Linked DNA regions of Homo sapiens: region 1 is linked to region 2. Evidence: fine-mapped expression QTL. A gene starts in region 2. The other region holds a variant in brackets. All regions are shown on one strand. Distances are from middle to middle. Region 1 overlaps SDCCAG8 (SHH signaling and ciliogenesis regulator SDCCAG8). Region 2 holds the start of SDCCAG8 (SHH signaling and ciliogenesis regulator SDCCAG8).

Evidence for each region. PIP is the estimated chance that this variant, and not a neighbour inherited with it, causes the effect. A credible set is the group of variants that fine-mapping cannot tell apart.
Region 1: its variant is the best candidate, but not a certain one, in a credible set for the expression of SDCCAG8 in whole blood (TOPMed, PIP 0.54).

What each region holds. Positions count from the first base shown.
Region 1 is chr1:243,415,376-243,432,133 of GRCh38, forward strand. It overlaps SDCCAG8 (SHH signaling and ciliogenesis regulator SDCCAG8), which reads left to right. Exons shown (of 18, transcript NM_006642.5): 14 at 327-454; 15 at 2,593-2,701; 16 at 11,052-11,183. Among named protein-coding and RNA genes, the nearest start is that of MIR4677, 78 kb to the left of the region's middle. The variant A/G (reference allele first, on the strand shown) is at 7,993.
Region 2 is chr1:243,248,358-243,265,115 of GRCh38, forward strand. SDCCAG8 (SHH signaling and ciliogenesis regulator SDCCAG8) reads left to right here and starts at 7,684. Exons shown (of 18, transcript NM_006642.5): 1 at 7,684-7,883. The coding sequence starts at 7,817. CEP170 (centrosomal protein 170) reads right to left here and starts at 6,924. Exons shown (of 20, transcript NM_014812.3): 1 at 6,683-6,924.

The DNA of each region.
Region 1 (16,758 bases), 170 kb after region 2:
ATGAAACATTCATTGATAGTGTAAAACATTAAGAATATTAGAGAAAAAAGTTTTGTGTTTTAAAGTTACAAAATACCATTATTTAGTTGTTATGATGTTTTGACACTGCACACTTTAGTCCATTTGGATTCATGGCACGTATTTAACACTGTATGGAAGGTTGTTTGGATCTTCCCCCTAAAGTGGGGGAGGGTCATTAGAAAGGTCCTTGTCTTCTTATGCTTAACAATTTACTACGTATCAGCTCTCTCTGGTCTATAGGGGACATGATGGGGGTTTGTGCATCTGCAGATTAAATTTCTGTATGTCTCCTCTCTGTTTTGCAGACAGGAAAAAGATAGCATTCAGCAGAGCTTTAGCAAGGAAGCAAAGGCCCAAGCCCTTCAGGCCCAGCAAAGAGAGCAGGAGCTGACACAGAAGATACAGCAAATGGAGGCCCAGCATGACAAAACTGGTAGGTGGTAGGGAAAGATTAGAGCCTGGGCACTAGCTCACAAGTCAGGCCCACGCCTTACTGTGAAATGACATCAGGAACACCTGTAACCTTTGGCTGGCCGAAGGGAGCAGATGCTAACTACACCGGAGATTCCGAATTACATATTAGTTAGCGTTTAAAAGAGAAAATGGAAAGTATTGCCCACTGTCTGTTGATTTCAGAGTGCTGCTCTCACATCTGTTGCACCATCTGGATTATGAGTTTATTTACCTGTGTTCAAGAAACGTAAAGCTGAGAGAGACCACAACAAAGTAGAAAAACAAAGGGCTTGTTTTTGGCTGGGTTTTCAGGCACACATGTTATATAAAGAAAATAGCATCAGAAGCTCTGCGGGAAATGCTCTGAGCTTACAGTTAGAGTCTCCTGAATAGCATTGAACAGTTCCCACAGTACACACATTATAGCTACTCTAAAAGCCTAATGAGTTTGCTTCAGCATCCAAACTGGAGAAAAGCTTTAGCCATTAATCGGTTCTTAATTCACTGTCGCAGCTGGATGTAATTCAGTGGCTCCAAATTGATATGTTCCTTTATTTAATCTTTGCAGCTTCGAACATTTTTAGCATTTGTATGATTTCCCCACCTCCCCCAACCCAATCTAGAGTGATGTTTAATCCTTTGCATTCTTCAAGTTCTCACAACTGCTGTTAAAATTCACTAATACAAGGCACTGACCACAGCTGGCAGCTTGGCTAAAAATTGCCATCTTTCATCACATTGGCACTATTCTGCAGACTGAGTTGGCCAGTAACTCTTTACCTTTAATTTGAAAGTAAAATGCACTTTGAAAATAGACAGTTTGATTTGTTCAGTCAGAGCATTATGTAGTTTCTTTCACTTTTGAGTTGTGTGTTCACAGACAGTGTTAGTCAAAACAAGACAGTGTCAGTCATTATAATTCCACACCACATACTCCACACTGATTGTACTATTAAAACAAAAGTTTAATTGATCCTGTCTCTTCCAGAAAAATGTTGCTTAATTTTAGTGCCTTGATTTATTTTGATTTGTATGCTATATGCTTTTTGCCAATCATTGGCTAAAATTGAAAAGAAATAAAGGCCTCTTAAAACTTATGCTTAGAGGTAATTTTCATATGATTTAATGTATTAATATATTGTATTTGATGACACAGTAAGAAATTATTTCTTATCCTATGGGTGAAAAATTGCCAACAGGCAAGTCATTAAATAATCTATTTACTTATGAAGAGGCAAATGTCATATTGACTCACATAATTCCCTCTATCACTTTCAGTAGAGATTTTCTTCCAACAGCATTTGGCCAGAAGAAACGAAAATTCACCAGGTTTAGTAGAAGTTTTTCCTCTAAAAACAAAAAGAGGCAATTGTAGGATAAATTATTGTTTTTGCCCCCACTGCTAGCATGATCCTAGTGATCAGAGTCTTGGGCAGAATCTAAGCACTAGATTAGAATGTATTTAACTGTTAAAACCGCCTTAAGAACATTTCCTTTTGTCTTGTACACACATACACAAAATCACACTGTTTTCAATTTCTTTGACCAGATCTCCATTGAAGCTCATGCTGTTGACAATGAAATTAAAATTCTAAAGAAAATACACATTTTTACCTTCATAATTAGAGAAGTGTATGCAAGATTGGGGGTGGTGGTGGTAGTAAACCATGTGTGCAAATATGAAACAAAGCATGAATTACAGTGTAGAAGAGAATTCCTCGATGATTTTAGTTTTGAGTTATCTGGTTGTGATAATTTTTGACACTCTGTTTATAGTAAAATTGTCAAAATAAAAATATAATATCTTGCATATTGCAAAGATATAAGCATCTATTCTTCCACTTGAGGTATTTGACACTTTATTAACATGTTAAAATGTTACACCAAGCTGGTATGATGAAAAATGTTTCTGGTGTATAATTATGTTGAAAATAAATGACTCCCAAGATTGAGTGTCTTTCCAGATGATAAGTCCTTTGACTTAGGACATTGAAGGTGATCTAGTGGCTTATTGGAAATGTGTAGGGGTCTAAGCACTTTACCACTCTATGTATGGAAGCACTGCAGAGCGACAACCATAAACATCTTATGTTGGTGGGGGTTTATTGTTATTTCTAGAAAATGAACAGTATTTGTTGCTGACCTCCCAGAATACATTTTTGACAAAGTTAAAGGAAGAATGCTGTACATTAGCCAAGAAACTGGAACAAATCTCTCAAAAAACCAGGTAGGTGATGTTATAGAATACTTTCAAGAGCACTGTTTGTGTGATTACTCTAATTTTTCCTTAAAAAACATCATTTGCACTGTTTTATAGTCTAATGTCAAAATTAGGTATCTGCTGATGTTTTCTTTGAAAATATTTTCTACATATGGACATTTTCTTAATTGTCTATACGCTTTTATGTTTTTTCATGGTTATGTGTATGTACTATTATTTGACATTTCAATGTTTAGAATTGAAAACTGTGAAATTTCAGGAAAGAAGGATCAATATGGTAATAACATAAACATGCAGATAAATCAAGCAGTTATAAAATCTTACATAGGTATGGTTAACACATTTTAATCTATTGTTACAATTCACCATGAACACAAAAGCTGTCTTTAGGTTAAATGATAACAGATGAAATGTGTATATATAAAAATGAAAGTAGATGGTACTTTGAAATAAATAAACCAAAACTATTCTTCCCTTCTCCTAAAATTGTTATATTTTAATAGAACAGCCATCATTCATTTTATAGCATACTACTCTTTTATAAATCCATTGATTGGAATCTTAATGACTTTTTTCTATACACTTTCTAGTCAGATTATCTCAATGAATAAATTATTTCATATTCTAAACTGCAAGAAGCCCGACTCCCCATCTCAGCTCCGACAGTAACTGAATAATCTTGGACAAATGTATTTGACCTACTTGGACTATAGTTTCTTCTTTTGTAAATGAAAGACATTGGACAGAATCACTTTAAATTGAACTATAGAAGGCAATATTCACATAACTGATAAGATGTCAAATACTACTTTATATGATAACTCAATGAAAAAATTGCCTGTGTGTCTTCTTTTCTGCATTTTTCTGAAACTCACATAGATCTATTGAGAGCAGGAAATATGGCTCAGCAAACAAACTACTGACCTAGATGTTTCATTCGGGAAGGATTTCTGGGAGTATCAGGGCATATCTGATCACTCTGAGCTCCATCTTGGAATCCTGCATCAACAAGCTGTCTTAGCTGATAGAACCCCCATCCCTGAATCTTTTGGGGAATCAGAGGGCTCGTGCATCCAACTCTCCCTGCTCACCAGGAAGGCAGAGGCTCCTGTAACCACCAAGAATGTACTCTGACATGCGCACCTTCCTAGCGTATACTAAGATTGTATTTTGGTAGGGGAAAACCTAGGTGCCAAAATACCAGATATTTCAAGGAAATTTGACCAAGAAAACCAAATGATTTTGTCATGAAAGAGACCCATAAAATATCAACAGTAGCTATTCTTAACCAGAAATACTTGATTTGCACCACATAGATCCAAAAGTAATTTGTTAGAAGCAAACAAACAAGATTGTATCATTTAGGGATAAAATGATATCAATCTGGGTTTTATATAAATGTATTAGGTCTAAAATTGGTTTGTGAATGATTAGTGATCTTGCTCTCCAAGGAGACCTAATTAGGGAAATTTATTATATAAAAGAGACAAAAAGGTGCTTGGTATGTTATTTAATTCTCACCACAACTTGAGGCAGGAATTATTATCTTCCAGATAAGGAAACCAAAACTGTTTAAATAACTGGTGAGTGGGAGAGCTACGGTTCTAACATAGGTATTTCTGGTTCCAAAGTATACGTTCTTTCTTATGGTAATTACAGTATTTTACATCTATTGCTAAAGAAAATTCAAGCCACAGTAGTTATGATGAGAAAGTTTGGGAAGGAAAAATTCACCTTTAAATTTCCGTGGAGAAGTAAGCGTCCTTGGCATGTAACGGTTAACTTACTCTGTGCCCCTAGGCCCTCTTTTTCCTCCTCTAGATCTGTCATCTTAGCCTGTACTGGTCTAACTCAGAACCTCTATTGCTCCTCCTGCTTCTCATTCCTCCAGCTCCTGAACAGTACTTTGTAAATTGGATGTATTCTTTTGTATCTGACATAGATGGCATTTAATGAATAAATGATGAATGAATGAAACAAATAGGTGTGGTGCTATTCGCACCTCCTGATCTGACTTCTGATGCCAGTCTGTCCCATTGTTGATGGCTGACAGTGTGCAGTAAAGAACACATGGCAATTCAGAGGAACTAGGTTTGAATCTCACTCTCCCACTTGGAGCTTTGTAACCTTGGGTACATGGCCTCATTTCCCCAAACCTCAGCTTCTCCTTCTGTAAAAACATTTCTAAAGCCACACTGCAGGATTGTTATGGGAATTAGAATTGTGTATATAGATACGCATACATACACGTATCAAGTGCCTAGCACAGTGCCTGACACATAGTAATACACAGTAGCTGCTATTATTTTCACTGGTGGCATTTTTAAGGGTCTTGACTGGTAATTTGGGTATCACTTTACATAGCTATTGTCTTTGCCAGGGAAAGTCTGACTGTCATTTTCCGACGGACATAAGTCTATGCCACAATGAAAGCCTTTTTAAAACAGCCAGATCAGGAAAATGTGGATCTAGTTGTATTTTGTAACTCTGATGAATTAAAGCAGGCACCTACTCTAAGTTTACAATTTGACTCAACCAAGGCCTGGCAAGTAGTAAACACTTGATAAATTGTTACTTACTATTTTTAAAACTCTCAAGCGCCCCTAAAACTTACGAAAAGTGCATTTTGTGTGCCTCACAAGAAGGTAGTGAATAGGACAAATTTTGATTTTAGGGTTGTTTGTTCTTAATTTCTTTTAGTTCCAGTTTCATTTCTCCCTGGCTTCTTACTATGACATTTTCAATAACTCATTCATGTTAAGTTTTACATTCCATTTTGATGTTACCTTCTGCTTTGAAACCACCTATAAAACTTGAAGGGCTTAAACTGCTTCTTTTAAAATACAAATTATTAATGTAGTAAACTCTGAAGAAGCCCTCCAGGAGTGTGCCTCTGCATACCCCATGCCAAACTATTGGGATAAATAATTTTCCCTGTGCTTTGAGGTAAGGAAAATCTTGGAGTTTCTAAAGTTTTGTCATTGTGGAAACTCAGTCTCCAAATTTATACTTATGCAATCCATATGGTAATTTTGGTCCAGCTTTTCCTCAGAGTATTACAGTAAAATTCTTCTTGAAAAGTAAGTGTATTTATTTTGTATTGAGCAATAATTAAGACATATTTTTCCTTCCTCTGTTACTAGCAACATTACTCTAAGAGTCTTGTTTTTCAAAATACCAACTAAACAAATAGATTCCTACCATTTAAAACAAGATTTTAAACTCACAGATCTAGTCATTTGACTGAAGCCCATGCAGAATGACGGGAAAGCTGAGAGCATGGGCTCGGCGTGCACGTACGCCCTTACTCTCTGCCCCAGCTTCATGCTAGGCTGCTCTGTTGCTCTGTGAAAATGTTTTGAAATGGTACCTCCGTGTGTGTGTCTGTTGTATGTGTTTTCTCCCCAAGGAGACCGTAAGTCGCATTATGGCAGTGACGACTGCTTCTGTTTTCTGGAAGCCTCCATAGTGATTAGCACAGTAGTTTGCGCGCTCTGTGTACTCCACACTGCACGTAGTGGTGTCTGTAACCCCGGGGTTTGTGAATGGCACGTCCCATTTTAAAACTTAAAATGAACTGCCGATTCTGTGCATGTTGTATAGCTTGTTTTTGACCATCAGGCAAGAGAATTAATTCCATTTTGCTTTTAATTGGCACCAGGCAGACATTCTGGCTGATTTTAGTTGAAGCTCACATAAACTTTCGCTATCCTTCCTTCTGTATTCCCCAGTACTCTGAGAGCTTATTATAGTTATGGGGTTGTTTTTTGAAGGAGGTAAACGGAGCTATTTAAATATCTTCGGTACAACTGTGATTTTTCTTTATCAAAGTGAAGGAAGTGTTCTCTCTCCCCACGCGCTTAGATGAATCAGCAGTAAAACGTTGCAGTGCGGTTTGCAGTGCTATCTAACACCTGGCCTGGGAGAGCTGGAAGGATTGGGTGCTGGCAGGGAGTGAGCCTCTGCCAGCCACAGAGTGGAGAGAAGTGTGTGCTAGGTTTTAGCTTCCACCTCTTGCACACTGAAAAGAACAGGATAGAGCATAGAACCAGGGTCTATGTGGTTTTGCTTCTTTCTTTTCTGTCATTGTCACTTTCTGGGTTGTGAGGCTTGTGGACTGATGTCTAACACTGCCCATTGTGTATTTGTGATTTGCGTTTTGTAATTAAGAGGAACAATGGGAGTCCATGGGGTCTCGTTATATATAATGGTTGGTTTAATTTGTTTCACTTCTATCTTGTTAATTGTAAATTGATCATTAAGATTTGAATTCTAATCTGTCACCAGGGTTGTGAGTATTGAGGCTAGAGCAATGATCCCGGTTTTAATCACTGATGATGAGAAACAAATTTTATAATTTTGGTACATATTGCAGTTCATATATTTTAACACTATACTTTATGGTGTTATAAATATTGTTAAATGACTTTTAGTGTAGTTTTACTGTGTGGACTATAATGTGTAAATTATATTACTGTTTTGGCAACAGTAGGTATCCAACTGTGTGAGTTTAATTGAGGTGAAGAACACACACCCGGTTGAACTGTTTTTTTCCTTTGCATGTTTAGATGATGTTAGGTTGGGATACTATAAAAATTATATTTTCTACAAGAGGAGACTGATATTGGCCTCTGCTAATTGTTACCAAAAGTCAAACTAGAACCTAAAAGAATAAAAAATTAAGATATTGTATTTCCCTTTGAAAGCAATTATCATTTTAATCCGAATTATAGTAGTAAAATATATTTCATGCAAATGCAATTATGCAACATAACTGGTATATAAAAATACAGGGGAAAGTTCATGCTTCTGTAAAGCCAGAAATTGCCTGAATTTTCTATGAAAATGGATTAGAGTCAATTATCCTTTTATATGACACAGGATAATCATGCCAGAAATGTATCTCCTAACTAACAGAAAACTTGTAAGTTTACTCTTTGAGCTTTGCAAACTACTAGTTCTAGGAACATATCGTGAGCTGCAGACAGAAAAAGGATGATGTGCAGGCATATATGTCAAATTTTTATTGAAAAATGGAAGTTGGTAGGCAAATTACAATTATAAACAAAGAAAAAAACAAAAATGTGAAGCAGAAAAAAAGATTGTTGCAATACACACTTGATAGTGATGTGTACTTTATAAATAACATTTATATTTTTGGGATTATGTAAGACATCCTCAATGCAGGGAATTTGGAAAATACAAAGAAGAATTAAGGAAAATTTCCTGTGCCACTACCAGCTAGAGATAACTATTCTTACCTCTGATATATTTCCCTTCAGTCATTTTTCATGTGT[A/G]TGTCTGTGTACATTTATAGTGTGATTGAGATTATACCGTATATACAGTTTTGCGTCTGCTTTTTCATTTGATATCTAATGAACATTTTTCTATATCAGTAAATACTCTGAAAACAAAACTTTATTAAATGATTTGCGTGTATAAGAATTATTAGGCTTTTAAGATGCTTCCAATTTTTAACCGTTTATGAATAATAATACAACAAAAACTTTGTACCTAAATCTAAATTTTTGATTGTTTCCTTAATTGCTGGTCCAAGACGATTAATCCTTTTAAGGGTGTTGATGTGTTTTACCTTGCTGAAGTACTACACTAACTTCTAATAACTGTATATGTAGCCATATTAGTAAATAACATTACAAAGAAGTGAGATTTTTTTAAAAAAGCATGAGAGGCAATATTGCACAGGTGGGTGGAACCACCCCTTTAGAGGTGGACTAAGTAATATCTGGGCTTGACTACTTGGATGACCTTAGGCAAATTATTCAACTTCATGTTTACCTCACAGAGAAAAGAAAAGAAACCCTTACAAGTACCTTATAGGATTAATTGAGATCATGAATGTAAAGGATGGATTTCACTGTTTGTTATACGGTGGCATGCAGTAAATATTTGGTGGTAGTATCTGGTTTTGTTGTGCTATTTTTTGAATAATAGTGAAATTGAATATGTTATAAATGGTATTGATCATTTGTGTTTCTTCTGTAGATATTTTCAATATTTCTTATACTTTTTAATTGGAATTTTGATGGAGAGTGCAGTTAGTGTTTCATTAAATTATGCTTTTAATGTTTGTCTTATTTTTGTAAATAATTTCCTGTTGTTTACATTGATTTTAATTAATAAGCTTTATTTTTTAGAGCAGTTTTAGGTTCACAGCAAAACTGGACAGAAAGTACAGAACTCCCATATATTCCCTGTTCCTTCCACACACAACCTCCCCCACCAGTGACATCTACATTTTGTTTTATTATGATTTTTTTCAAAATCAGAATGAATTTATTTAAAACAAATAAAATACATATCTATTTTAAAAATTTAGAAAGTATGGAAAAGGATGAATACAGAACAGAGAAAACATTCCTGATCCTACCATCCAGAAATAACCAATATTAATAGTTGGTATGCATGTCAAAATATTTTTCTAAATTATAAAATGAAATCACATTACACATGCTGACTTTTAATGTTTTCTCTTTGTTACTAATATGTCACAGTTTTAGATCAATAAATATCACTTATAAATAGCCACATTATCAGAATAATAAGTAACATAACCAAGCTCCTGTTGATAGATTTCTTGGTTAAGTTTCCAGATTATGGGTTGCAAAGAAAGGTTGTTTCTAGAAACAATGCTACAATGAATACTCTCACACAAACCTATGATATATTTTAAATGTGATTTTTTTATGCATAAAAGTTTTGTATTTTTATATTGTAAAATCTATTTTTTTCTTTGTGATTTTTCTTTTTAAAAGTGCCTTTTGCTTGGAAAGTGCCTGGGAAAAGATCAATGTTCTGCATTTTTTTCTAATCTGGTTTAAGGATTTTTTTTCTTCTTTTGAAATTTATTTTAGTGCATGGTATGATAGGAGATACTAATCTTGGAAGGGATACCAGATCAAAAATTTATCATAACTGCCTCTAAATTCTTTTGTATTGTATGTGATTCTGAAAGGAGAAACGTAAGTCATTATTAACTCCTTTCGGACTATTTCAAATATGGGTAGATTCTTATTAGGAGAAGCAAATGTAGATTGAGCACTTGATCTGAACTTGAAAATGAGATAATCCATGCTCTCATACAGAATATGGTAGGAAAGACAAGGCACAGAGCACAATTTAAAAGAATAAATTATAAGCTAATGTATGCATAAAGGCTAGAGGTAGCTTCAAAAAACGTGCTGACATATTGAGAACTGCAAGGTATCAATCAGGGCAAGCTTCCTTTTGGATGACATTTGAACCAAGATGAAAACAAAATGAAGAATGAGGTGAACTAAAAGCAAGAGTTTTTGCTCCATACACGTGAGCAGCCTGGTCCTTGGGATGAACAATTTGTAAAGTAAGATTTCCCTTAGCAAATCCAAATCCTTTTCTGACCAGGAAGAAAAGGCTATCTTGCCTACTGGAAGAATTCTTTCTTTGAAGGGAATTAATTTTATGTCAGGAGTCTTCAGAAAACAATCCAATCATTAACCTGAAAACGACTCATAATATACAAGAGTTTTAAACTTTCCATTCTAACTGATTAGGCATTAGGGCATGAGGAGATGGTGGCAGTAGGCAGTAATTTAGAGTTTACTTAATACAAGGAAAGGAATATAATTTTTCTTGGATAAACATCTTTCTGATCTTCAAATTTTGAGACTTGGATTGTCATCTAAGACACGAAAAACAAGATATTCCCATTTTGCTCAGGGGAGGTCAATCTTTTTTCTATTAAGACCTTCAGTGGATTGGATAAAGCCTGCCTGCATGGACGGCAATCTGCTTTTCTCAAAGTTTACTAATTTAAATGTTAATATCATCTAAAAAGCACCCTCACAGAAATGTCCAGAATAATGTCTGGCCAAATGTCTGGGCACCATGGCCCAAAGAAGTTGACACATAAAATTAACCATTAAAGAACTATTTTTATTTTAACTGTGTGCCATTAAACTGGTTATGTTAATTAAAAGAAACTCTGTTATAGAAATTAGGCCTAGGGTTTCTTCTTTGACAGCATAGTGTTTGGCCTATAACAAGCACTCAGTAAGTATTTGTTAAATGAATGACAGTCTTTTAAAAAAGAGATTTGATCATTATCATGTTTGTCTTATTCCTTAGGGAAGCCATTTCTGTTAGAGTAAGTTGTTATTCCTTTTTCTGTCTAACACATGAGTCTCTACAATGTATCTTGCCATTTCTGAAATATTTTCTTTTGCAAAGGATGTAGTTTTCATTATGCTATCATGTTTAAGTGTGGAGTTTAAGATAATGTTAAGGTTATATAATAACAATATGCCCTAGTAATAAGAACTTCTAACATCTATTATTTTTGTGTTTTCACCTCTAGATCTGAAATAGCTCAACTCAGTCAAGAAAAAAGGTATACATATGATAAATTGGGAAAGTTACAGAGAAGAAATGAAGAATTGGAGGAACAGTGTGTCCAGCATGGGAGAGTACATGAGACGATGAAGCAAAGGTAATCAAGGTTTCATGTCAACTCATGTGCCGCATATTGAATGTGTTTGGTTTACACACTGAAGGGGAATTGCTGCGGAATAAGTAGAATTCATCATCATTATGCTACTTGTGACATGCTCAAAATCTAATACTTTATTTTATGTATTTATGCTTCCTTAATTTAGGTTGTTCTTATTATATACAAAGAGGAGAGTACATCCTCTTTTTGTTATTCTCTGAAGACATAGAATTAGATTTAACATGGAAGAATGGAGGAAAGCCATTTTCCTTTAAGGTGTAAGTTGGTAATATTGTAATATGGAGGAATTTCAAATTATCTCTCCTAGAAATTAGATTTTATATGCTTTTTGTAAGGTAAAGCACATAGTAGGTCTAAAGAGGTTAAACATCTTATCAGAGGTTGCACTAATAGCATTGCTAGAGTCAGAACTTGACTACAAACAAAACCTTCACTTCTTTCTGGTGGTGTTACTTTGAGCAAGTCACTTAAGTTCTCTGAGTGACTGTTTCTTCACCTATATATTGGCGCTAATCATATCTACTTTGCATTTTGATGGAAAGATCAAATATAATATGGCAAAGCACATGGCTCATAAAGGCCACCCACTAAATGTCATCAATAATTATTATTCTCTTTTTCTAGATGAAGAAATTCGGCTCAGAGAGGCTAATAGGTTTGCTCAAAGTGACAGATGGAATAAGTGGTAGAGTTCAGACTTGAATCTTGATCTTTTGACTCCAAAATCCTTTTCTTTTTGTGCAGTAATGGGGATTTTTTTTTTGGCAATAAACACAGCCTCTTACTATTTTTTATCCATGTGCCATTTCTCACTTCTGTGTGATAATGGATTCCCTGGGCAGAAAATAATCTCAGTATTTCACAGCAGACAGTGAATAGGTTTCTGTAGACTTGGACTTCCACATGACAACCGCATGCACGATGATAGCAGCCACCCTTCCAGTGGACACGGTTCGCGTGGCCTCCAGCTCGGCATCCCCACACCATTTCCCAGCCATCCATGCCTTCTCTGTTTCAAAAACAGTTCTTGATATAATTGAAGGAAATGAAAATATTTATAGACTCCTTGTATTTTTTTAAATGTAAAGTAAGCATATTAGCCTGGGGTGGGGGGGAGGTATTTTTACGTTGATTACTTGCTTTATTGAATGAAGACAGGCAGTCAGATGATGGCACTGCTTGTCAGTTATCAAAATACCAAAATATGGATATACTTGCAAAGTAATAATTATTCATTCACTATTAAAATGTTTACTTAAGCCCAGGCACTTCTGTAGGCCAGGGGTCTGCAAACGTTTTCCGTAAAGGGCCAGAGAGTAAATATTTCGGACTTTGCAGGCCACACGTGGTCTCCGTGGCATAGTCTTCCTTGTTTTGTGTTTTTTACAACCCTTGGAAAAAGTAAAGACCATTCTTAGCTAGAGGACCAACAAAATGAGCCAGAGGATTTGGCCATTGGGCCAGCCTTTGCCCCAGTCCTGTGCACCTGGGGCATCTTTCCATTTATTTTCTTACATTTGTGTATTGCTTTAGAGTTCCTAGAATGCTCTCACACATAGTACCTTATGTACCTTGAAGCAACCTTGAAAGTAGCTGCATTTATCATCTCCATTTCCAGATGGAGAACTAAGCCTAAGAAAGACAAACGTGCCGAATGAAGGTCAGGTGGCAAATTAATGGTTCGTTCATTCAACATTGATTGATTGATTGATTGATTGCTGCTGTGTGTCACATTTTCTACCACATGCTGGAATAAAATAGCAAAGTAGATATAGTTCCCACTCTAATGGAGTATACATCCTTATAGGGAAGATGGATATTAGCAAAAGAATTTCATAACTGTCTAATTAATTATAGTTGACCCTTAAACAACACAGATTTGAACTGTTTGGGCCCATTTATACACAGATTCTTCTCAATAAATTTATTGGAAAATTTTTTGGAGATTTGCAACAATTTGAAAAAACCTGCAGACAAACCATGTAGCCTAGAAATAATGAAAAGAAGTTTTAAATTTAAGTATGTCATGAATACATAAAACATCTGTAGATACTGGTCTTTATCATTGACTACCATAAAATATATGCAAATCTATTATAAAAAGTTAAAATTTATCCAAACTTACACACACAAACACAGATCATACATGGTACCATCTGCAATTGAGAGAAATGTCAAATGTGAAGGTGCAGTATTAGATCGTAACTGCATGAAGTTAACTGTAGCACACACTGTACTACCGTGATAATTTTGTAACCACCTCCTGTTGCTATTGCGAGGAGCTCAAGTATTGTAAGTATCCACTGAAAACGCTGTGTGGACTAAATCGTCTGCATGTGAACAGTTTCTCTCTCCAGTAAATTGCTTATTGCAATAACAAGTGATCTATTGCAGCTCTTGTGTATTTTTCATCATGTTTAGTGCAATACATAAACCTTGAATAACACCGTGGGACCCATACGAAGTGCCACTAGTGATGTTGGAAGTACTTCCAAGAAGCAGAGAAAAGTCATGACGTTACAAGCAAAAGTTGCATTGCAGGATATGTAGCTTAGATTGAAGTTTGCAGCTGCAGCCGCCTGTCATTTCAGATGATTCATCTTATAAACAGACATTATAAACTTATGGCATCAATATATAACAGTACAGTACTGTAAAAGTATTTTCTCTTATGATTTTCTTAATATTTTTTCTAGCTTACTTTATTGTAAGAATATAGTGTATAACACATATAACATATAAATATGTGTTAATCAACCATTTATGTTATCAATATAAGGCTTCTGGTCAACAGTAGGCTGTTGGTAGTTGAATTTGAGAGGAGTCAAAAGTTATGCATGGATTTTTTGACTGTACAGGGGGTTGATGCTCCTAACCCCCATGTTGCTCAAGGGCCAACTGTACAGTAATGACCAGTTCTATGAAGGAGAAATATATTTTGTGGTACAAGTACATTTAATAAGGGAACTTGTTTTTTAAAAAATTATTTTTAAGAGAATATCTCACTCTGTCGCCCAGGCTGAAGTGTAACCTTGAACTCCTGGGCTCAAGTGATCCTCCCTCCTCAGCCTTCCAAGCAGGTAGGGCTACAGGTACATACCACCATGCTCTGCTAATTTTTTTTTTTTTTTTTTTTTTTTGAGACAGAGTCTCACTCTGTCGCCCAGGGTGGAGTGCAGTAGCGCGATCTCGGCTCACTGCAACCTCCGCCTCCTGGGTTCAAACAATTCTCCTGCCTCAGCCTCCGGAGTAGCTGGGATTACAGGCGCCTGCCACCACGCCCAACTAGTTTTTGTATTTTTTAGTAGAGACAGGGTTTCCCCATGTTGGCCAGGCTGGTCTCAAACTCCTGACCTGAGGTGATCCGCCTACCTCGGCGTCCTCTGGGATTACAGGCATGAGCCACCATGCCTGGCCTAATTTTTAAAACTTTTTGTGGGTACTAGGTCTTGCTATGTTGTCCAGTCTGGTCTTGAATTCCTCGCCTCAAACCATCCTCCCGCCTCGGCCTTCCAAATCTCTGGGATTACAGGTGTGTGAGCCACTGTCCCCAGCAGGGCACTTAACATTGATTAAGAAAAGCTTCAATGAGAACATGACATTTGAATCGGTAAGCAGTGGGATTAGATCAGGAATTGGCAAACTATCTGGCCCTCTCCTAAAAAATTTTACTGACTCCTGTTCTAGAGAAAGAAAATCTATAAAATGGAAGTTCCTGAGATAAGAAAGCATAGTACTGGAGGAAGAGCAAGAACTGTGTGTCCAACATAAAGGAAAACAGAAAGTGTGGCATACAATGAGGTTGGAGAGGTAGGAAAGGGCTGGACCTAAAGGCAGGGTCTTTATGTTTTTGTTTTTATTTTATTTTATTTATTTATTTTTTGATACGGAGTCTCTCTCTGTCGCCCAGGCTGGAGTGCAGTGGCGCAATCTTGGCTCACTGCAAGCTCCGCCTCCCAGGTCCACGCAGTTCTCCTGCCTCCCGAGTAGCTGGGACCACAGGCGCCCACCACCACGCCCGGCTAATTTTTTGTATTTTTAGTAGAGACGGGGTTTCACCGTATTGGACAGCATGGTCTGGATCTCCTGACCTCGTGATCCGCCAGCCTCGGCCTCCCAAAGTGCTGGGATTACAGGCGTGAGCTACCGCACCGGGCTGGTCTTTATGTTTTTATCATGGACCTTTAAATTTATCTTGTTACTAATGGGAAGAAATCAAAAGATTTTTTAAAAAATAGAGGAGATGTGATCAGATTTGCATTTAAAAATTGTATTCTAACTCCACAATAGATAACAGATTGGAACAGAGCCATCGTGTTTGCTCAAGACCAGTTATGGGCCGGGCGTGGTGGCTCACGCCTGTAATCCCAGCCCTTTGAGAGGCCGAGGTGTGTGGATCATGAGGTCAGGAGTTCGAGACCAGCCTGGCCAACATGGTGAAACCCCGTCTCTACCAAAAATACAAAAATTAGCTGTGTGTGGTGGCGAGCGCCTGTAATCCTAGCTACTCGGGAGGGTGAGGCAGGAGAATCACTTGAACCCGGGAGGCGGAGGTTGCAGTGAGCCAAGATGGCACCACTGCACTCAAGCCTGGGTGATAGAGCGAGACTTTGTCTAAAAAATCAAACAAACAGAAAAACGATTAGGGAGTTTTTGGACTTAGTCAAGCAATGATGATGCTTGGACTGGAATGCTAATATTGGTGACAGAAATAAACACTGGCGAAATGTGTAGGAAGTAGAACCAGCAGGAGTTACTTGATTGGCAGTGCTGGGTGGAGAAGAGGAGCGTGTCAAGGACGACACCCATATTTCTGACCTGAGCAATGGGTGCCTAGTGCTGCTACTTACTGAGAACTAGGGAACACTCTAAAGAAGCTGGTTTGGGGTTGAGATGGCCTGGGTTTGGGATGAGATCAAGCGTTACGTTTTGGCCATGAATTTAATGTTCAAATGATGGTAAAGATCATTCAAGTTGTAAAAACGAAGAAAGTTAAATTTTCAACTGGTGGTTTGGAACCCCTGGTGTCCACAAAGGCAGTCCAGGGAATTCATGTTAAAGATGGCAGTGCCATTTTTTTTTTCTGTTTTTATTTTAAAGTAAGTATCAATTCACCTATTTCTCCCTAGAAAATAGAGCTGTGTGAAAATCCCCCAGTGTATACAGAGTGGACAAGCCCCAGAGCCAGTGGAGCACTGCTGAGCACCTGTGTCCTCTCATCTGGGCGTTCACTGTCACCGACTCCCAGTAATCCCGGGGGTTTCGTCAATTACACAGTTTTACAGGAGTTTTTTCCCCCTTTTGTATGGTAATATATTGTTTAAAGTATATCCATAAAAACCATTGTCTAAAGACATGCAGCTTCTGATCGAAGTGTAACAATCTAGTAATGAGTTTAAAATAGGTAATTCTTCTATAAACTAGATTCAGGATGATCTTTACCAAATCCGTAAGTTCTATGTTTGTCATAGAAATTTGATTCTTCAAAAGCCAATGTTAAAAATACAAATTATAATATTGATTTCTATCTAATTTGACATTTTAATTTGGGGAA
Region 2 (16,758 bases):
TTCTCTTTTGCTCAGCTTTCCATGTGGAAAGTACCAATTCTCAATTCTTGGATCTCTTCTCAGTCTAACTCCCTAGCCAAGAGATCCCTTTAAGTCTACTGGTGATGCTTAACATTTAACTATCCTCAGTCCAAACCTCTCCTCTGAATGCTTGACTTACATATCTAACTGCCTACCTGATGTGTCCACTTGGGCGTTTAACAGACACTTCAAACTTAACATATCCAAAACATTTGACTCTCTAAAGCCAGAAACTAGTAACTTTCACTATTGCCACTACTGTCGCTCTAGTCTAAGCCATTAATGTCTCTTAAACCAGATCATTCCAATCATTTCCTAGCTTATCTCATGGTTCCCAGTGTTTTAAAGAATTCCCAGAGCCATTCTTTAAAAATATAACCCAATTTTTTGGCTTTGCTCAAAATCCTCCAATGAATGCTCATAGCACTTAAAATCAATGAATAAAATCTCTATGCAACCTCATTTCCTCCTATAAGCACCTTTTCCTCACTCACCTTCAGCCACAGTGTTCTCCAAATTCACTTATCCCATTCCTGCCTCAGAACCACCGCACCTGAGTAGAATACTCTCCACTCAGATACCTACAAGATGCTTCCTTACCTAATGCAAGTTCTCTGCTAAATGTCACCTCAGAAAGAGGGATTCCCTAACCACTCTAAGATAGTTCTCAAGGTGTAGCATAGTGGATAAAGAGGCTATTTTTTTGTGTCATAGAGGGGACACAAAATATGTATTTATATTTGCTTGAGGTGAAGAAAAATTCATGGCCAGGCGTGGTGGTTCATGCCTGTAATACTAGAACTTTGGGAGGCTGAGGAAAGAGGATCACTTAAGCTCAGGAATTCAAGACCAGCCTTGGCAACATAGTGAGACCTCATCTCTACAAAAAATTAGCTGGGCATGGTGGCGCACACTTGTAGTCCCAGCTACTCAACAGGCTGAGGTGGGAGTATTGCTTAAGCCCAGCGGGTCAAGGCTGCAATGAGCTGGGATCCTGCCCCTGTACCCCATCCTGGGCGACAGAACAAGACTCTGTCTCAAAATAAATAAATAAATAAATAAATAAATAAATAAATAAAGTTCATTGAAGAATACATAAGAAATAATAAAAATAGCTACTTACTGGATTGGCAAAAGTGGTAACTCAGCAGATAAGATGTAGGGTGAAAAGGTTTTTCATATTATTTCTTTTCAAAATATTATTTGAAAACTACCTGAATGAACACTTGAAAACAAATGTAAAACAGCAGTCCTCTACCACTGTCTCTTTACCTTGATTAATTTTTCTTCATAGCATCTATCCTTACTTGACTTTACATCGTAAAAGAATTATCCATATCCTCCAGTATATTGTAAACTTCATCTAATTCCTTTACTGCTGGAGGATATAATGGTTTTCTCTTTAATTTAAAAAACAAAACAAGGCCAGGCGCCATGGCTCACACCTGTAATCCCAGCACTTTCAGAGGCCTAGGCAGTGGACCATGAGGTCAGGAGATCAAGATCATCCTGGCCAACATGGTGAAACCCTGTCTTTACTAAAATACAAAAAATTAGCCGGGCGTGCCTGTAGTCCCGGCTACTCGGGAGGCCGAGGCAGGGGAATAGCTTGAATCCAGGAGGCAGACGTTGTAGTAAGCCGAGACTGAGCCACTGCACTCCAGCCTGGCGAGAGAGCAAGACTCCGTCTCAAAAAAACAAAAACAAAAACAAACAAAAAGGCCCCAAAAACAAACAAACAAAAAAAACCCATCCGAATGGTTTTCATTATTTTTGTGTCACCTTTCCTCCCAGCATCTTTTATTTATGTAACATTCATTCTATTTATAAATGTGCATGGCTTTGTCCTTGGCTATATTAAGTATATGGCCAGGATGGAGACATAAGAGTTTGGCTTGTTGAATTTATAAATGTCAAAAAGCCAGGAAGGAAAGCTAATCCCTTGGATGACAGAATCATGATTCAAGAAGATCTCAAGTTTTAACTATAGCTACGTTCACGGAGATGAAATTTAATAGGAGGCAATGGTAAAATACTGGTTTAAAAACATCACCTGTGTGTTTATACACAATGGGAGAAATCTAGCTAAGTGTAAAAATGTTGGTTTATGTTGACTACATCAGTGGTTTCCAGACCAATTTTTCAGAAAACAAATTAAGAATCAACATAAGGCTGCCAACTTTTTATTGGTTAATCAGGAACACTAAAATAAAACAAAACCCCATGACCAACATCAAAAGAAACTTAACCTATCATTACTTAATAGGTGTTACTAACACTATCATTTAATAAAGGCCATTTATGAACATTAGAAAAGGAGAACAAAATCTCAAAAAATAGTACCTTGAATTACATAAATATAACTTGAAAAGCCATGTAACATTTCTCTCTCTCTCTCTGCTTTTTGCTTTGAATTAGCAGAGATGACTGTTGTTAAAGAGTTGATACAATTTTAGACTTTAAACACAAGTGTATGGCTTGAAATAAGGAAAGGGACAATTTCACTGCACTTTGCATTCAGACCATAACTGCAGAATTAAATATGGAAACAAGATCAGAACACAAAGAATAGCACTGACAAAACTGATTGAATCCAGCTGAGAGATGTGAGGGATGGCAAAGGAAACCATATGAAGTTGGAGGTGTCCTAACATTTAGACAAGAGAAAATCTAGCTAATATATTGAGAAAAACCTTACTTCATCTTACTCCTAAAGACTGAATTGCAACCAGTGGGAAGAAGTTATATAGTAAAAGCAGCTACTAGCTCAATTTAAGTGAGATCTTCCTATTACACTTTTTGGAAGCTAAACAGGCTTTCCTATGCCCAGGGAAGGGTTTGTGGAGAAGTTGGACCCAATAACATCTCAGAGATATTAGTAGTGGGTGATACATTGTATGAGCTGACTTCTAAAGTTCCCTTGAATTCTAAAATTTTATGAACCAGAGTAAGGAAATAAGTGGTACCCTTTAACTTACTAAAAAAGATGAGTAGAAAGAATTTTGGCTTTAGCCAAAAAGACAAAGGTTCAATTATAGGCCCTATCACTTAGGAATGTGTAACGCAGAGGCAAAGTTATTCACTAACTCTATGCTTCAAATTTTTTCAATGTGTAAAAATAATACCTTAATTTAGAAGTTTGTTGCAGAAATTAAATACACACACACCACACACACATAAACTTCCTGGCACCTAGGAAATGTTCAAAATTTGGTAGGTATTATTCAACGATTCAATAAATATTGTGTTTCAAAGGGTAATATTTTCTATATCATTTATTACTTATGGATATACTTAAAAAATGACTTGTTCTCTGCTATGTGTCATTTGTTTTTCAGACCTCAACAATGCATGCTTGGGATTCTTTTCCACTTCTATACTTTCTGCAATTCCTGTTTGTATGTAAGTAGATTTTATGAGGTTTTCTTTAACTTTGCTTTTGCTGTTTTGTTTTTCCACCTTTATTTGATATAAAAGTGGGCTTTAACAGCAACACACATTGGCTATGTCACTGGCTTTGGCTAAAACATTTCTGCTAAACTGGACAATATATCCAGTTTAATCAACCACACTACCAGACAGATGTTTTTTATCTCTCACAATGGCTAACTCACTGCTGAACACTCCTTTATGAAATTTTTGAGTAAGTAAATAAAAACCTAGGGTATCTGATTAGAAATTTTGGTTATTAATGAAATAAAGATATTTCTTCCCATCAAAAGTATCCCATTTCTTAATGAAACAGATCAACACTGAATGCTCCAGTCAATACTATCTACTCACCAAGCATTCTTCAAATGGCACGTAACTGCTCTTTTGTTATACTTCCAGAATAATTTGCAACTGTACAGATACTTTAGTTAGCAATTAAATATCAGGTTGTCTGTCAGATACTTAGTTGAAGAGTACACTGCTTAACATCCCAGTGTTTGGGACAGATAAGAAAGAAAAGTCTTTACCTATTAATTAGTATAGAAAAAATATTTTTCAGGAATACAATTTTGTGGAATAAAAAACATTTTGACAAAAAAGCTTAAGCATATACAATATTTAGTACTAGATGAGCATTATCTAATTGCAATCAGATACAATAATAAAACTAGTTCTTTTTTTCAGTAGATAAAAAGGAACAAGAAACTGATACTTGGAACAAATCAAATAAATCACGAAGCACAGAATTTTAAAAAGTACCATAACAGCATTAATATGCAGAATGTATGCTAAGGTTTACAGTATAAATTTCACTATTCTAATGTTAAAATAGGGAACAGGCAGATTATTTCCATACAAAATAATCTCAGAACACAATGAAATTTACCAGTAAAATACATTTAAAGCATGATTGAATATAATCCCACATACTGAAATTTAGTTACAGATTTTTAAAGTTGAAATTTAAGATAAATAATAAATCCTTTAAAGAAGTCTATTAAAATGCAACGTAAAATTAAACGATTAAAATTATAAGGGAAGAAAAAAGCACTTTATGGCAAAATCAACCCAATAAAAAACATAAAGTTAATATATCTTAAAATGTAAATTCTAGTTTAAGTTAAAAGTAATCACTAATAACTCATTAATGATTACAACTCATTAACTGTGGCAAAATAAACATCATAGGTTCTTGTTATGCGGAAATTTTATTTTTAACACAGCCTATAGAGTTGATCATCATACTATTATAAAATACTATTGATTTTCAAGAAATAATATTAAAACCTACCGTTAAGTAGCTACCATTAGGTAGTAGGGAAAACACTGCAACACTTCGTTTTTATGAAAAGCACATGTTAGGACATCTTTCCTCATGTAGTAAGTTACTTTATGAAAGTAAAGGTCCATTTTAGGAGGATTACTACTTTTACATCACAAAGGCAAGAACTAGATTAATCACGGTGAGAATCAAGTTCAGTGATAGTCACAGCCTACTCAGGGAGCACATAGAGAAGCTTTCCATACATTTTCACAAGGTAAAAGGGCTAGGGGGACACAGGAAAGATCACTCTGCAGAATGGACCTTGAGTTTCGTTTGGCTCTGCCTTCGATTAACTGTCTGGCTTGGGCAGACAAGTCAGTTAACTTTCTGAGTTTTAGTGTCTTCCTCTGTCAAGTGCACTTGGGCTCTTCCGTGTTATCTACAAAGTTAGGAAGAGCTAAAGGCAGCCCTAGTTTTACTTTTTAAAAAATAATAACAGAAAAATACATAAGTTGCTATTCATCAGTGTACTGTTTCCAGAGCTGAATTCCTAAGTCTCTGAAGCATACCCAGTTAGGGTTATACCAGTGAAGATCCAGATACTATAGTCATAATGTCACTCTCTCCTCTCCCATTATTCCTCCACCTGCTCCTCCCCATCCTGCTTTATTCTCTCTTCTGGTGTGTTTTAAGAAGCAACGCCAGCAAACGGCTGCATACATTGTAAGCTTAAGGATTAAATCATTTTAAAATATGCATTTTCAATCAAATGTATCATCTGCTTCGCCAAATTCCTCCCAAATGGCTGAATTTTCATTAAGAGAATAAAAATGAGTTAACAACTTCGGTAACAGAAATGTACTGGGCCAGTTGTTTTGTTTGTTTTACTTGCTTAAAAAATAAACGGAAAGATGTATCCATTCCCTCAGGAACATAAATGCATTACCTGCCCAATGAAAAAACAATTCTGCTTGTTCATTTCCCTGACACAACAGCTTCGTTGTCAGGCCCTCTCTAGCCCAGGCTCCAACGTCACCTAGTAATTTTATATTGATCACCTTGGCAGTGCTTGGACTCCAGCAGGCATAGTCCCTGTCTTCCTTACATTCCTCAAAATAAATAAATAAATAAATAAATAAATAAATAAAACTCTACGAAACACCACCGAACAGAGATTCTGTGACTTAGTATACAAATCCCACGTCTTCCCGCCCTGTGTTAGGCAGCTGCAAATGTTATTTTTTCATCGCTTGCATAAAATGGAAGCGAAACGTACCAAAACCCTACATCTGAATCCTAGGACAATGAAGCCGACAGGAAGCCACTCTCTCCTCCCCCGGGTTTACTACAGAGCCAGAGCCTCCACGGGGTGCAGTCGCCAGGCAGGGTGCATGACACCGCGTCTTCCACGCCCTCCCAACGCGTCCAAAAGGTTGCTCGCCTGACCTCGCCAACCGCCTCACACCCCAAAACCAATCACACAAAAGGGATTGGCCCGGGGAGCTGCTCCAATGGGGGAAAAATCCCTTCCCCAGCGGCAGCGCAGCCATTCCCTCCAATGCTCCGCCCGCACCCCTCGCAAACTGCTACGGCGGAGGGGGGAGGGCTGCACAAAGCCAGTCGAAAGCTGAAAATGATTCAATGCACTTAGGGGATGCGGAGGCGGCAGCAAGGGGCTCGGGAAAGCCGGGGGGCCGCAGGACTGGAGCTCCGGGGGGCGGCGGGTGGGGGATGGGAAGGGTGGTCCCGTCAAGCCCCGGGTCCCAGGCGGGCAGAGGGTGGGGGTGGCGGCGCCGCGCGGAGCACCCGGGAAGCGCCCCCTTCGCGGTCCAGCCCCGCACCCCCGCCCCGCGGCGGGCGGCGCCCGAGTCCTCGCCGCAAACCCGAGGAGCAGGATGTGGAAAGCAGCCGCGGCGGTGGCTGCGGCTGCGGCGCCTACACCGAGCAGCCGATCGCATCACTTACCCCTTACCGTGGAGAGAGGGACCGGACGGGGGAGGCGGGGCGCGTCGCGTCCCGTGAGTCTCTCGCACGCCGTCCTCCCCCCACCTCGTCGTCGTCGTCGTCGCCGCTGTTGTCGTCGCTGCCGCTGCGGTCGAGCTCCGGGGCCCTCAGCTCCGCTGGGCAATAACGTTATTCCACACACGCCCCACACATAGCGGTAACGGCAAAGACCGACTGCCTAGTGCGCAGGCGCCTCGGGAAAGGGCGAGGAGCCGGACCCTATCCCCTCCTGCCCAGTTCCAACGATCCCTTACTGCGCAGGCGCCACACACAGACAATGAAAAGGGGTTGTGCGAGGGTCTCACCCACACGCTTTTCCAGCTTGCCCACTGCGCAGGCGTGCCCCGAAAGACCAGCTTGAACAATGAAGAGGACCTCGGCGTTAGGTGGGACCGCAACCAACAAGGACTACAGTTCCCAGCGGGCAGAGCGCCAACTCCAAGTGAAGGTCCGGTTGCTGGGCATGCTAGGAGTTGTAGTGTCGGCCGCCTTTACAATCTAGGCTGTTTGGAAGATTTAGAGCTTCTATTTCTTGAAGATTTATTCGACCGTTTTAAAAAATCTCGCAACTGAAGCAGGGTTCAGAGTTTACTATCTGCGTCCTTGAGTAGCCTGGGGATCAACTGCTGCATATTAGCAAATTTCGAAGCGTCAAGGCCTTCAGTGAGCCCTTTCTGTCATTTGGGTGGTCCAGGCAGCTGAAGAGTGGGATGGAGGCGGGACTAAACCAGGCTGGGCTGGAGGAAAAGGGCGGGGCCTGCAAGCCTGTCTCTTGGCAGCAGGCTCTGGCAGCCAAACCGTCCAAGCTAGCGCCTGGAGCGCAGTGGTTTCTGGGAATTGTAGTGTAACTGGAAGGCCCTGAGGATTGTCGAGCTTGCAGGTTCTGAACGTGAGGACTACAACTCCCGACGTGCAAAGCGAGGGCCAGTGGGTGGGAAGAGCCCCCAAGAGCTCTGTGCGGGATTCTAGGCTCCCCTGTGACAGCCGCGGCAGGAAGCAGGCGGGCGCTCCCCGGCCACAGGCCTGTTGTTCTCGGAAGGGAGAAAGCTGGACATTTCCCCACGTAACTCCCAGCTCTGGGCCTAGAGTGCGTGCATGGCGAAGTCCCCGGAGAACTCTACCCTGGAGGAGATTCTGGGGCAGTATCAACGGAGTCTCCGGGGTGAGTTGCTCCAAACCTCTGTCCCTAGCCCCGAGGTGCCCAGGGCCTAGTGGGCGGGAGCAGACCAGGTGCGTTTCCTAACACCTGGGTTCTGCCCCGTCCACGCTACAGAGGAGCAAGATGGATGTTGCTGTGGTCTTGAGGAGGATGAAATAGTTTGATTTAGTTTTTACAGTTAAGCAACGATGTTTCCTCAGATTCCCGTAGTTACCTCAATCAACTCCTTGATCTTAACTTGGCATCTTTCTCAACCGGCGACAGCAGAAACTCTTGGATAGCTCTATGCCATTTTTGTTCAGTTCCCATACGTTGCTATTTAATCCAATAAAAGTCTGATTCACAGTTTTTACACATTTAAATTATGGCACAGTGGATTGAATGTGATTTATGGGATCAGTGGGGGGAAACACTAATAATTATTTTAATCACAAGAGCCCCCTTTTAATTGATTTAGGCTATTTACATACAGTAAATCATCTGCAGCTTACACCAATCGTGTGAATATTTTACACATGGGGAAAGCGAAGCTCAGAGAGGTTGAATTACAGGCCAGAGCCCACACAGCTGGTTAGTTGCAGAGCCAGGTATTATCAGGCTTGCCTTCAAAGCCTATGTTTGTATTTACTAATCAAGCCATAATTACTATTATCAAAACCTTATTAATTTAGATTTTCTTACCACATTACCATATGAGCAAGTATCTGTACAAATAATGTCTGTATTTATTTTCCTTTAAGCTCTGTTGGACTTAATGTCTGTACTTTTAGATGGCGCTGTCAACTTGGACAGCATATATAACATCTAGAAATTTCGATTCTGTTATAATGGAAGTTATGGAATTGTCCATAGGGTTATTGTGGGGAGCAAATGAAATAATCCCCATAAAGCAGTGATTTTAAGACTTCTTAAAATGTTTACCTATAGTAAGAAATAAATTTTATATGGGACATATGTGTACATATAAACTATAAGTTTCACTGAAGAATTTTTATTCTACTAAATGTAATAAACTCTGCTTTCTATTCTGTTGCATTTTCATAAGCCTCTAGGTCATGACTGTTTGCGACATTGAGAATACTAAGTTATGAAGCATGTGTTGTTCTGCATAATATGCCTACTATGTGTCAGTGCCTCCTACTATGTGTTAAGCATACTAGGTGCTAGGCATGCAGTAAGGAACAAGACAAAGTTCCTATCCCCATGGAGCTTCTGGATTAGTTGGGGAGAAAGACAAAAAAAAAAAATAATTATAGATTACTATGATAGAAAGTAAGGGTAAAGATCAGTGCTTACTAGACAAGCACTCATTAAATGTTAATTGTTATTTATACTTGTTACTTAAAGCAAAGTGAAGGTTTTTCAATATTAGAAAGTTTATCTTCTCATGACTCTAGATTTTATAAGGGTTACTATGTATTGTTACATCTGTCAATTGTGTTAACAAACTGTCGACATTCTCAGTATTCAAACTGCAGGAGTAAAAAAATCGGTTTTAATGAACACCTTCCTCAACCTACTGATGTTTCAAGAGCTGTTAGATACAAAATAAGCACTTCTAACTTTTCATTTGGAAGCAAGAAAAATACTGTGCACAATGATATGAGTAATTGTAATTTTTAAGATTGGCAAAAATTTTTTGTTTTCATTGAAAGTTTTTCCTGATGCTTCTCTTCCTTTGACCTTATTTTAAGTCTTTATATAATTGTCGGAGGCTGTTTAACATTAGGCATTTTGACGCAGTAAAGGGGTTCATTTTAAATTAATGTTATAGTAATATGTTTAATACTAGTGGTACTGCTTTCAATAATTACAGAATGAAGGGTTTTCATTTAAGGATAATACATTTTAAAATTAGTTTGAAATAAAATTTAAATTTAGTGTGATAACAATATAAGGTAGTGGAAACATTTCACCAAGAGCAAATACGAAGGATAGAAAAAGTTAAACAACTTAAAAAAAAACGTATTCATAATTTTAACAGTGAATCAGGAAATGTAACCTGAAATGTTTATGGGTTTTTCAGGACATATCATTTATTTAGTAGCACTTTTATTTTTGTATGTTAGCTTATATAACAGCTTCTGGAAGGAAACAAAACAGAATTAACTCTGAACTTAAGTACAGTCAGAAGTTCTTCACAAATATAAATTGCTATTTTTGAGTAGTATAATTTATTTATTTAGAGATGGAGTCTCACTCTGTCATCCAGGCTGAAATGCAGTGGTGCCATCTCGGCTCACTGCAGCCTCTGCCTCCTGGATTCAAGCAACTCTCCAGCCTCAGCCTCCCAAGTAGCTGGGATTACAGGCACGCGCCACCATGCCCGGCTAATTTTTGTATTTTTAGTAGAGACTGGGTTTCGCCATGTTGGTCAGGCTGCTCTAGAACTCCTGACCTTAAGTGATCCGCCCACTTCAGCCTCCCAAAGTCTGGGGTTATAGGCGTGAGCCACCGCGCCCGGCTGATAATTCCCTTTAAAGTAAAGTATTCTGTTCCTTAATAAACAATGCTGGAGTTATGTGGAAATTCCTTATTTTGAGTGTGCCTAATAATTTAAGAATTGTATTACTATGTAGTAAGATAAAATGCAGTTTAAAGTTCTATGTCTTATTTTGTTTTGGTTTTGTTGGTTTGTTTGGTTTTGTCTACCCACCATTACTTCCCCAAATGCCTTGCGTAGTTTATGATTAATGGAAGCCTAATAAACAGTCTTGGTCTTTCCTCACCGGTTTTTCCTCTAGCTTGTAAATAACTGCACATGTAGTCACTACTAATATCCCTTCATTGATATTCAGCCAGGAAGTGGCCGCATAAAAATGCAAAATGCTTTCCCTATTTTCCGTGATCGTACTTCCATTTTAAAAAGATCTTTTCCTGGGGCCGGGCGTGGTGGCTCACGCCTGTAATCCCAGCACTTTGGGAGGCTGGGGCGGGCGGATCACGAGGTCAGGAGATGGGAGACCAGCCTGGCTAACACGGTGAAACCCCGTCTGTACTAAAAAAAAAAATACAAAAAACTAGCCGGGCGTGGTGGCGGGCGCCTGTAGTCCCAGCTACTCAGGAGGCTGAGGCAGGAGAATGGCATGAACCCAGGAGGTGGAGCTTGCAGTGAGCCGAGATCGCGCCACTGCACTCCAGCCTGGGCGACAGAGCGAGACTCTGTCTCAAAAAACAACAAAAACAAAAACAAAAACAAATTTCCTTATTTCTTTAATGTTGGTACTATTATGGTATATCAAAATTTGAAGTTCTAATGTGAAAACTGAGTCAGCATTTACTTTCTTGTTTTTAAAATGAGGTTGGGCGCGGTGGCTCACGCCTGTAATCCCAGCACTTTGGGAGGCCGAGGCGGGCAGATCACCTGACGTCTGGAGTTCGAGAACAGCCTGAGCAATATGGAGAAACCCTGTCTCTACTAAAAATACAAAATGAGCCAGGCGTGGTGGCAGGCGCGTGTAACCCCAGCTACTCGGGAGGCTGAGGCAGGAGAATTGCTTGAGCCTGGGAGGCGCAGGTTGCGGTGGGCGGAGGTTGCAGTGTGCTGAGATCGCGCCACTGCACTCCAGCCTGGGTAACAAGAGTGAAATCCTATCTCCAAAACAAACAAACAAAAAAAGATATTTTCCTCATTTCTTTAATTTTGGTACTATTATGGTATATCAATAATTTGAAGTTGTAATGTGAAAACTGAGTCAGCGTTTACTTTCTTGCTTTTAAAATGAGATCCTTGCCTCATTTTGACCTTGATGATCTTGGAGCAGCTCCACATTCACCTTTCATCCATTCCCTTACACTTTTCAGTGGATTTGCTGTTTGACTTCTCTAAAGATATCTCTTGCTTTGGGTCGCCTATGCCCTTTTACAAGAAATTGGAGACATTTAATGATTCTTCTTCAAAACGAGAGTTCTGGCAGAAAAACCGGAAGGCTTTGTTGCCCCCACAGATCTGTTGTATTATTCCTACATAGTAAATGGTCTGAAAGTTTCCAGTGTGGTTAAAAGTGTATGTGTCCTGGGTATCCTGGGAACCACAGAATTTAATCTAGAACTGGAAGTGATTTGGGAGGTCTCTTGGCAGTAAGGTTAGGTGTTCATTTACTCTATGGGTAGTTATAATTCAACAACCACAGAATGGCCGAGAACTACATTTGTAAGTGGGCAAGATAGCACATGCGCCTTCTCTAAATTCAATACATCGTTGTATAAAGCCAAGAGGTATGAAATGAACTATTTCATAGCCAAGAAAGGGTGAAAAAAGCCACAATTATAGGCAATCCAGGCTCTATTTTAAGTACTGCACACTTGAGTGTAAGGGGATATCAGAAAGGAGAAAAATTGCTAGAAATGCAGTATTTTAGCCTTAATAACAGAATCATGTCTCATCTCTTGCTGCAGCGTTGGGAATAGATAACAATTTTATCAACAACACCTGTATACATGACTCACCTATTCACCTCATTCCTAGCCACCTTTGGTTGGGTGAGTATAAGGAAAAATGAAACAAACTTCTTGTATGACAGGAACTCATGATTTTCTATATACATTTTGCATTCTGGTTTTACCTTTTTCTGTCAACATTTTGGTGTTTCAGCCTTTAGATGAATTTATGGGAAGAGTGTGGTGGGGTCAGAGGAGAGAATGTGGAGCTGGGAGCCAGGTCACTGCACTTACTTTTGCTTTGCTGACAACCATCTGGGTAACCTTAGGCAAGTGAAACACACTGTTCTTGGATTCCCGTTTCCTCAACTGTAAAACGAAAAGTTTGGACTGGATGTGAGAATTATTGCCTTTAGGTGCCAAGCAAATGATCAAAAGGTATGATGGAGTCAGTGGAAGACATTAAGGGAAATGATGAGGCTTATGGCCAAATTGGGCAGTTTCTGCTTTTTCTAAAAACATTTCAATTTCTTCCTTGCTCCCTCCCTCTTTGCTTCCTTTTTTTTCTTCTCTCTTTTTCCCTCTTTTCCTCCCTCTTTTCTTCCAAGAAGGAAGCCAAGCAAAACACACCCAGAGCCTGATTCCCCTTTAGACACCACTCTCTGACCCTTTGATCATTAATGTTCCTTCCATCAGCACTTGTTTGGACCAGATGAATGATTAAGGGCTATGTTTTTGTCTTATGGAAATGAGAGTAAGGAGTTGAACCAGGTACACAGAAAGTGAGAGGATGAATATGAGAAGAAAATATATAATCTCAGGGATGGGCCTTGTCTTTACGAATTGATGTAGTTCAAGAAAACCAAAGATAAGGTTGACTTTCTATGTTTTGCTTGTATATGATTAGCACATCTATCCAAATCCTGCAAAGTGGCTCACAATTGTAGAAGGGCTGTGTTAGTCTTACTAGCCAACAATTTGGTCAGTGTATTAGCCAGCAGTGATATCATCTGGCTGTCTTAAGAAAACATATGTGTAACTCAAATAAGTATTCCTGTTTTCTTATAAAACTTGTATTTCTTTTTTGCTTTTCTCAAATATTTTCTGGATTTTTAAATATTGTTTGCCATATGCACTATATAGGAATATACACACATAAACATGAGGGGTTTTTTGCTGATAAAATTCAAATTATACATATTCATCTTTTGTTTTATATATTCATGTGGCTTTTCTTTTTCTTTTTTTTTTTTTTTTAATCTCAGCTCACTGCAACTTCCACCTCCCAGGTTTAAGCGATTCTCCTGCCTCAGCCTCCCGAGTAGCTGGGTTACAGGCACGTGCCAACACACCTGGCTAATTTTGTATTTTTAGTAGAGACGGGGTTTCTCCATATTGGTCAGGCTGGTCTCAAACTCCCAACCTCAGGTGATCTGCCTGCCTTGGCCTCCCAAAGTGCTGGGATTACAGGCATGAGCCACGGTGCCCGACTTTTTTTTTTTCTTTTGAGACAGGGTCTTATTCTTTTGCCCAGGCTGGAGTGCAGTGATGTGATCTTGGCTCACTGCAACTTCTGCCTCCTGAGTTCAAGCGATTCTCCTGCCTCAGCCTCCCGAGTAGCTGTGATTACAGGTGCCACCACCACGCCCGGCTAATTTTTTTATTTTTAGTAGAGGCAGGGTTTCACCATGTTGCCCAGGCTGGTCTCGAACTCCTGGCCTCAAGTGATCCACCTGCCTTGGCCTCCCAAAGTGCTGGGATTACAGGCATGAGCCATTGTGCCTGGCCTCATGTGGCTCTTCTTAGTGCCTTTAACTTTTATGATCTTTTATTTTACTAGAACTTAAAAGTACAATCTCAATTTTTCTTTCCTACTACTGATGAGATAAAATTGGCAAAAGACAGGATTTAGCAACCAGAAAAGAAATGAGTGTTCTACAAGTAAATAGTCATCCCTGGAATAATCTAAATCAAAGGTATGTTTCAGTGTTAGGAGATTGTAGGGGTACTTTTTCATGTTCTTTGTCAGAAATAGGTATAGAGTAAGTTTTTTTCAAACTATTGAGATACTGAGAGTAATAATATTCTCTCCTGGGATGTTTAAAGACTTATGGTCTGATCACATTGCCAGTTTGTGCTAAGATTTTCACCATTTTACTTGATGATAACTCTTCTCAGAGTCCAAAAGTAGACAAGGTAGCTAGAAATGCCCTTGTGCACTGGCTGAAGCAATCCTGATGATGGCGGAACTTCATCAAAGCCCACTGGATACTTAAAGGGATGGCCTTAGGGCAAATATTGCTTTTAGGCCCTGAAACAAAATAAAGCTAAATATGAATCTGAGCTCTTGCTTCTGATAGATATAACACCTATTCCTGACACCTGGATCAGATGTGTCCCATCATGGCACTGTCGGTCTCAGGCTGTGTCCTCCCCACCAGCACTCCTGTGGCAGAATAGCTCACTGTCACGCTCATTTTCCATCAAGAGGCGGCAACACTTACAATGTAATGTGGTCAGAGTGATAGCAAGTCTCCCCTCAACACTGAAAACTCTTGTTTTATTGATCTCGTTTTATTGACTTGAAAACTGTCTTGTTTTATTGATTTTTTTTTATTGTCACAATTGGGGGTGGAGATGAGTGCTGCTGGCCTCTGGTAGGCAGAAGCCAGGGATGCTATTAAACTGGCACAACACAGCCCCTTCCAAAAGAGAATTATCAGGTCCAAACTGTCAATAGTGCTGAGGTTGAGAAATCACGATCTAGAAGTACAGGCTTTGCTTGTAGCCCTTGATCTGCAAGAATCCTACTTTACAGTAATTACAAGTAAGGATATACAGATTGTATTTGCTGGTGATTTTACCTATGTTCTTTGCCAGCCTGGCTAGGTTTACTTCTTTTATCAGTGGAAAGTGACAGGTGCATCAGTCCTCTCCACTGATGCCAAAGAAATACCAGGTGTATCCCTTAGAATGCATATAGCCAATCTCCTGGATTTGCCAACACCCACATATCTTTAATGGTCTTCCAGACATTGCTTTCTTAAGATGTTTACATTCTTTATCAGATTATCTTTTACTCCTGGCGCCAACCACTTTAGCATGTTTTCAGTTATTAGAGTCTTAGGATAGTATTTTCTTTGAGATTCAAACAAAAAAGTATTCTACATAGTACTTGTAATCTCTTTCACAATTGTAATTGCCTTTCACAAAGCCGACATTGTCTGATTTTTTGATTCTGCTGTTTATATCTTGGTAGTGTTACCTGTTGGTCCCCTAGTAAACAGTGACAGCAATCTTCTGAACCAGGCTGAGGCCCAGTCAAGTGTAGATAGACATGTATTTCTTATCTCACTGTGGTTTTATTTTTCTGCATGTCTGCCCTAATCAAAGCTTGTGCTGGGAGCTGCAGTGCATCTCATATCTCGGCCTCGGGAGGAATGGTTCATTGCATATTCTCTCAGAGACAGCTGGGCGCTTCGCAGGGAGTGGTCCCCCTCCCTGTCACCAGGGCAATTCTCTTTCACATCTCCCAGGACAGATGGAGAATGAAGAAATTAATAATTCATAGTGTGTATTTAAGTGGTGATTCTTCCTAGACTGAGACATACTTGCATTTTGTTCAAAAACATCTTGATGAAGACAGGCCCAGTGGTGACCTAAGAGTTAGAACATAGGAAGTAGGGAAACTCTTACTAAGAAAATGGACAATACAGGCCAGGCAGGGTGGCTCACGCCTGTAATCCCAGCACTTTGGGAGGCTGAGGCGGAAGGATCACCTGAGGTCGAGGGTTTGAGACCAGCCTGACCAACATGGAGAAACCCTGTCTCTACCAAAAATACAAAATTACCCAGGTGTGGTGGTGCATGCCTGTAATCCCAGCTACTCAGGAGGCTGAGGCAGGAGAATTGCTTGAACCTGGGAGGCGGAGGTTGCAGTGAGCCGAGATTGCACCATTGCACTCCAGCCTGGGCAACCAGAGCGAAAACTCCATCTCAAAAAAAAAAGAAGAAAGAAAATGGACAAGACAGACTGAAATTAGCTAGCAGCCATTAGCTCAGGTACCTTTTAAGTGCTCATTGTACTGATTGATGTTTGGATAGTGCATTAGCAGAAATATTATCTACTTGCACTTACGTTCATGTGATCTGTAGGACTCAGGGGTCCTGTTTGTGTCTGTAGTCATAGTTAAGTTTATAGTCAGTTCCTGGTTGGTGCTGGGGAAAAGAAATCAGGATGCATTCATTGTGAAATACCCTTACTGTCCTCTCAGGAGAGAAGAGGAAATGAGTGTGTTCTCTCTCTTGGTTAGAAACAGATAAAGCTGTGTCCCATTAGCAGTTGGATAGGAAACGGTAACTGGAACCTTCTGTCTAATCTGGTTTCCTTAAATGTAAGGAGCAGATAACTGCATCTGGGGAGTAGTGCTCTTAATAAGGATTATGGGGGCTTCAGTTGCAATGGCTCCAGTTGAAGAGCCATGGGATTTCATCTGTC